2 separate regions of the Homo sapiens genome follow, and region 1 is reported to be linked to region 2. The links are microRNA targets in miRTarBase. Many come from high-throughput screens and were not tested one by one. Region 2 holds a microRNA gene; the other region holds the end of a gene's coding sequence.
The links. The annotated mature microRNA hsa-miR-3664-5p reads AACUCUGUCUUCACUCAUGAGU and lies in region 2 at 2,469-2,490, opposite strand. An mRNA with a match to its seed (bases 2 to 7 or 8) in the 3' UTR can be bound and repressed. Matches are read on the target gene's strand: a 7mer-m8 pairs with bases 2 to 8, a 7mer-A1 pairs with bases 2 to 7 and ends in A, and an 8mer does both.

Region 1 (3,329 bases), not on the chromosome of region 2:
TGTGCCTGGTCAATTCCGGCTTTGGATGGCTTCTTAACACAGTGATGAGGGTGCAAATGAGTACCAGGAAGAAGTATTTAGTGGGATAAACATCTCCCGGCAACTGCCTCAGCACCTGGAGCCGGCTGGTCTTCCGGCTCATGAAGTCCCTGGCTCTTGGCCTTCCTTGGGGGTGTCCATTTGCAGTGAGCAGAGGTGCAAGGACATGTGGGGACAGAGAATAGCCATCTACAATCATGGAAAGCCTGGACCATGTGGTCTTGATTCTGGGGGCTGTCCCAGCTGCTCCCTGGGCAGGACTATCTCCTGGGCACCAGGTTTTAAGTGAGCTGGGAACTAGTGAGAGCACCAGCTGTTAAGCTTCTGGACAGAGTCCGTGTGAGCATCAGTCCTGAGACCTGCCCTGGAAGGGAGGCTAAGGAGAGAAGCAGCACAGTCCACAGGCAGCCTGCCTCAGGGCCGCTCTGCCTTCCGCTTTTTTTTTTTTTTTTTTTTTGAGACGGAGTCTCACTCTGTCGTCAGGCTGGAGTGCAGTGGTGTGATCTTGGCTCACTGCAACCCCCGCCTCCTGGGTTCAAGCGTTTCTCCTGTCTCAGCCTCCTGAGTAGCTGGGACTACAGGCGCGCACCACCATACCCGGCTAATGTTTGTTTTTTTTTGTATTTTTAGTAGAGACAGGGTTTTATCATGCTGTCTGACTGTCTCGATCTCTTGACTTTGTGTGACCTGTTCTCTGTCCTGCCTCGGCCTCCCAAAATGCTGGGATTATAGGCGTGAGCCACCATGCCTGGCCTGCCTTCTGAGTCTTAACCTCCTTGGTCACCATGTGGCGCTGCTTCCACCCACTGACGGTGTCCATGCACCTGCTCAGCAGTGGCCCGAGGAGCCCTGCAGACGCCCCAGCAGCCAGGGTTTCTCACCGTCCCCACCCCAGGACAAGGAGGCAAGTGTGGGGAGGCTGCTATCTCCAGGGCCACTAGAGCTGTGGGGCCACTCGAGGACCGAGGCTCCCGGCCGGCTTGGAAACAGATCCAGCACATGGAAATCAGACTGTGGGGTGGAGGCCTGCGATATAAAGGCCATCTTATTTCTTCTCCCACTTTTTGTGGGTGACTTCTTGGTATCCGGGGCTTTTCAGTGACAGCCGGGGCGACAGGCCAGGCTGAGCCTGTGGCTCCAGGGTCCAAAGAGAAAGGAGGGCAGAAATAAGAGAAGATGGCCTTTATTGCAGCACGAACTGAGGGGGACTGCATGTCCACAGCTCTCCAGGAGCTGCCAAAGGCGACGGGCCCGCCCTGCCCCTGCAACAGGCCCTCCAGGGGCTAGAGCATGGCTCCCCTCAGGAAGGGTAACGCGTGCTTGTAAACAAGGGCCCAGACAACACAGAGAGGAGAGGCAGCATCATCAGGTGCAGCTTTGCTACAAGAAAGATAGTTCTTAATTTCAAAGAGGAGACACCGCTACACCTAGCCCTGCCCTCCCATGCACTGGAAGGCTCTGGAAGTAGCTCTCGCCTGCCTGGGCAGTTAGGTCCACCCACTGCCCGTGAGCTGGGCCCAGGCACACTGCAGCCACACAAAAACGCTGGCAGCTGACTCCTAATTTCAGAAACACAATTAGAAAAGAACTGGAATTTTACATTTTTCTCCCATACATTAAAAAATAAGAAAAAGCCAACATTTTGACTGTAGACCCTGGTAGGTGGCATCTGACTTTAACCTGAAGTTCTCATTGGAATCCTTTTCTGTCTGGCGCTCCACCGCCCACAATCAGCCCCAGCCCCAGGCGCCCCTTGCCGAAGGATCCTGGCCCATCTCACACAAGGGCGGGACCCCGTGGAGTGCCCGGCGAGCAGGGCAACCACTGGGAAGACAGATACTGATTTCCCTGTTGGGGTCTGTGACCCTCAGCAAACGAAAAGGAAACGGTAACAAGACGGTGGCCTCCTGCCAGGACCTCAGCAGGAGGTTTGCTGGTGAAGGTTCTGGGTGAGCTGGAATGGGTGATAAGGCGGGCTTGCTGGGTGGTGGCCTCAGGCTGTTCCTGGGCCCCTGTCGCATAGAGCCCTGTGGGTGCAGTGTGGGGCCCCACAGCCGTCCCGGGGTCGTCCTGATGCATAAGAGCAGAGACCCCGGAAGAGAAACCCGCCTGCCCCGTGTGATACAGGGCTCCCAAACGCTTCCCGGTGGAACCCTGCTCCCGAGGACACCTTGTCTCGCTCCACGGAACCCTTCCCCCAGCACCCCCTGGAAACACAGCAGCCAGGAACAAATTCTCCATGCCAGGAACAAAGCCCTTGGCTAAACTGGAGACTCATCAGTGCACAGATGGTGGTGAGGGGTGAGGGCAGGGCGTGGGGTGGTGCTCAGCCCTGGGGACACCATCACTGTCCTGCTCTGACCCACAGGTGAGAGGAGGATGCTGTGCTCCCGGAGTGTGGCGCCGGGAGGATGGCTCGGCAGGACAGAGGCCTGGGGCTGAGGCTATGCCCAGGGCCGGTGTGGGGAGGGACATGGGGGCCTTTGCAGAAGCAGCTCAGAGAACTGAGGTTGGAATCCTGCCCCAAGCACAGGTTTTGGGGACAGCGAGTGCCTAGACAAGGCAGGTAACGTGGCAGCCACCGGGCTGGTCCAGAAACAAGGTGCTGAAGACGTCGTTGAAGAAGGTGGGGTGGTACCTGCAGGCTCGCTCACAGTCGGGGTTGAAGTTCACCTCCAGGATCTGCGGCTGCATCACCCGCCTTCCTGATGGCAAAGAGCGCAGCAGAGTGTGAAGGCTCGTTGGCCTCCACTCTGCAGGGACAGTGGCCTGGGGATCCAGCAAAGGCTGGGAGGCCATGAACCTGGGCCCTGATTCCCAGGGGATGAGCAGGACAAGGCCGGGCCTAGAACTTGGGTCTCTTGACTTTGCTGGGGAGGCCTGGCCTGACATCTGCTTCTCTAGGAGAGGCCAGGGCTGCCTCCAGCCCTAGGGATGACAGCCTGGCCCTTTAAGCTTGGATGTTCAGTTTAGTAAAAAAAAAAAAAAGTAGATATGCAGCAGCAGTGTACTGTGTGGGGGTCTGGCACAGGGAAGGCCAGCCAGGGTGGTGTGGGTTGGGGTCAGGGTGCCTTTCACACGGGTCTCCTGTCCTGTGAGCTCTCCCCCGACTCAGAGGCCCAACCCGCAGCCTTTCCCCTCCAGACTCTGCACCGCAGGCACTTCCTGTGGGCCAAGCCAGGGCTTTCCCCAACCCAGATTCCTGGCTGATTCAAGCCAGAGGACAGCCTGGGGCAGCTGCCTGCCTTCTCCAGGCTGTGGCTGGCTGGCGGAGGGGGCGCCTGCTGGTT
Region 2 (3,395 bases):
TGCAGGGACCTCACCACCAATTATGTGAATGCCTCCCCTCTGCCTGAAGCTCCCCAGGCTCTGCCTTCTCACACACCCAGAAACCCTCACAAAAGTCCACAAGAGTGTCCCCCCAAATCCATGTCCACCCAGAACCTACGAATGGGGCCTTAACTGGAAATGGGTCATTGCCTCCTTGCAGATGTGATCAGTGAGGTTGCGACGAGGTAATACTGGATTAGGGAGGGTCCTAAATCCAATAATTAGTGTCCTTATAAAGAGAGTGTGGCCCAGGGCACTATGGAAGAGGTTTGAGGATGAGCACAGCAGCAGAATCTGAGTGCTGGAGGCTCACCCAGGCAGAGTGTGCTCCACTTCGTTCCAGGGGACTGAGAGAAATGAACCCGGGGTGAGACCCAGAGCCGTCCCCTCCTGCAGTCCATCTGGGCCAAAATGAGAGCCCAACCAGTGGGGAGGGAGGGGCAGATTCAGGAAATAGAAAAAGTGGAAGGGGCTGGTTCTGGACAGATGGGAAAAGGGCAGGTGAGCGCCAGGAAAGATCTAGGAAGGTTTTTGGGTTTTCAGTTCCTGGGCCATAACTGAGATGGGGTGCCCAGGAGGAAGGGCCAGCTGGCCAGGAAAGATGGGGTATGTTCACTGGAGCTCCTGTAACCACAGCCTGGGTGACTGAAACCACAGGGATGAATTGTCTCATGGTTCTGGAGGTTGGAAGTCTGAGGTCAAGGTGTTGGCAGTGGGGGGGTTCACACTGGGGACTGCAGGGAGACTCTGTTCCAGGCCTGTCTCTCCAGCTCCCAGTGGCCTGTAGGCAATCTTTGGCATTCCTTGACTGACAGAAGCATCACCCAGAGCTCTGCCTTCATCTTTGTGTGAGGTTTGCTCCGAGTGCATGGCTGTGGCCACATTTCATTCATTCATTCATTCATTTATTTATTTGAGATGGAGTCTTGCTGTGTCGCCCAGGCTGGAGTGCAGTGGCACGATCTCGGCTCACTGCAGCCTCCGCCCACACAGATTCAAGTGATTCTCCTGCCTCAGCCACCCAAGTAGCTGGGACTACAGGCACCCGCCACCACGCCCGGCTAATCTTTGTATTTTTAGTAGAGACGGGGTTTCACCATGTTGGCCAGGCTGGTCTCGAACTCCTGACTTCAGGTGATCCATCCGCCTCAGCCTCCCAAAGTGCTGGGATTATAAGCATGAGCCACTGCACCCGGTCCCATTTCCTCTTTTTATAAGAATATCAGTCCTACTGGATTAGGGCCCAATCTAATGACCTCATTTTCAGCTGATGACTTCTGTAAAGACCCTACCTCTAAACAAGGTCACACTCTGAGATCCTCAGGGTGATACTTCAACATATGCATTTGCAGGGACACACTTCAAAGGGGAGTCAGGGGTCTGGGCTCGCCTGGTGGCAGGCTCTGCAGGAGATGAGTCTGAGGGTCCAAGAGGAGGTCCAGGGAGCGCTCTGCAAGCCACCAGCCCCGAAGATCACTGGCACCATAGGAGCAGGGCAGGATGGGCGGGGGTGGGGAGCAGAGAGCAGAGCAAGGGCAACCACAGAACCTGGGGCCACACCACCTTCTGAGATGAGCCACATAGCCTGGCACTGAGCCTCCTTCACGTGCTGAGGCCACATCTGTGTGCCATGGAGCCTGTGAGCCCCTGGAGGGAGAGGCTGTGCCTGGGACCCTGCGGATTCCCCAACACATTTGCTGAACAAGCAGGGCAGGGAGAGAAAGGAAAGTGAGGTCGAGACAAATATTATAAATATGACCATATCCCTGATGGAGAAGAAAGTCAAGAAAGAGTTCATGTTGAAAGGCAACACGGGCCAGACACACCTGGTACTCAGGGGCCCTGCAGGGTTTTACAGCAAACTGTGGCCACATGGGGGCTGGGAGGGGACAGCCAGGAAAGAGGCACAGTCCCCATCTGAATTTGACTGAGAGACTCTTTGAAGCCGTCTGAGATTTCCATATACGATTTCTATTAATATTTAAGGCAAGACGCATCCCATCCTCCATAACAACACCGTCTTGAAAGAAGCCTTTGAACTACTTGAAAGGTAAACCCAGCATTATTCTTGGATTAAGAACTCTTGTTCATTCAACAAATACAGCCCCACGACGACATCCCTGAACACCAGAGCCAGAGGTGCCTTGGCATGTGCACGCTGCCTGCTTCTGCAGCAGTAGGATGATGCGTGTGTGGCCTGTTACGTCACACCGCCAGTGGGTCTGGGCAGTGTCCCATTGCCAATTGCGGGAGGAGTCCTTCAGGGCACGGATGAATAATCATGCTAAGTAGGATAAATAAAAACTATAAATAGCCTCAAATCAGTTCAGGTCAAGTACTACTGCCAACGAGCTACGGAGAAGGCATTCGCTTTTCAGATCTTTTTGCAGATCCACATTGAAGGTAGGGAACTCTGTCTTTACTCCTGAGAGCTCGTGTTGGAAGGTACTCATGAGTGAAGACAGAGTTCCCTACCTTCAAGTTTACAGAGGAGACGGGGTGCACAGTGGAAAGGAGGGGAAAAAAACCCCACACGCATGAAGAGGAAAGACAAGTAGGATGCAGGCTTGGAGGTGGAGGCTCGGCGGGACGGGGAGAAAAAAGGACAAGACCCTTCCCTAGAAGCGCTTGGTGGACACAGTGGGTGCAAACGACCAAGTGGCTGGATGGAGGGAAGAGAGACCCTCAGATGGAGGGAATAGGGGGCCCCCATACAGAGGGGCCCCCCACAGACCAGAGTCAGGGGCACACAGGTCCGTGAGCTACGTGGAATGAGAGATGGGTCCCTGGACCACATTACTTCCGGCTCCCTGGTGTATCTCCTCCACGTTCTGGCCACCTGCGGGTCCCTGTTTTCCTCCACACTGACCACTTGAAAACTGATGGGTGGCAATTTTCACCCCTCATTGTCCTAAGGGTCGTGGGGGCTGCTTTGCTTGGTGCTGGAGTCTGGGGCCACAGTGGAACATGGCATTGATTGCTAAGAGGAAGGGACCCCACGATGCCCTGTAGAGCCCAGCTCCTCGGGGCAGGAGGAGCACATATCCACTGTCTGCCCTCTCCCCACACTCATGACCTCCACCTCCCCCAGCCCCAAACATTACAAAAGCTAAAGACATCCTGGGCACCTGTGAGAAAGGAAGAGCGGAGGTAGTTCCCACGTCCATCCTGGTGCCTCTGCCTCCCGGGTGGCGACCCTCAGGAAGGTGAAACCTGCAGCTTGGGCCCTGCAGTTTATAGAATGATATGTTTGTGGTTCCCTAAAACAAAGAGCCGTTGCCACAGCAACCGTGGCATCCCAGCACTCAGAGGCTATTCTCAGACACTAAACAATGAGTTTTGCCTTTCAAATGCATTTGATACAATTTGCTTGG

Region 1: miRTarBase lists TTLL12 as a target of hsa-miR-3664-5p. The part of its 3' UTR that is shown has no 7-base or 8-base seed match.

The regions. Positions count from the first base shown.
Region 1 is chr22:43,165,416-43,168,744 of GRCh38, forward strand. TTLL12 (tubulin tyrosine ligase like 12) reads right to left here. Exons shown (of 14, transcript NM_015140.4): 14 at 1,207-2,744. The coding sequence ends at 2,593. Among named protein-coding and RNA genes, the nearest start is that of TSPO, 16 kb to the left of the region's middle. RefSeq lists an enhancer at 2,793-3,329.
Region 2 is chr11:70,869,859-70,873,253 of GRCh38, forward strand. MIR3664 (microRNA 3664) reads right to left here and starts at 2,510; the gene lies at 2,412-2,510. All of the region lies in intron 11 of SHANK2 (SH3 and multiple ankyrin repeat domains 2), which reads right to left.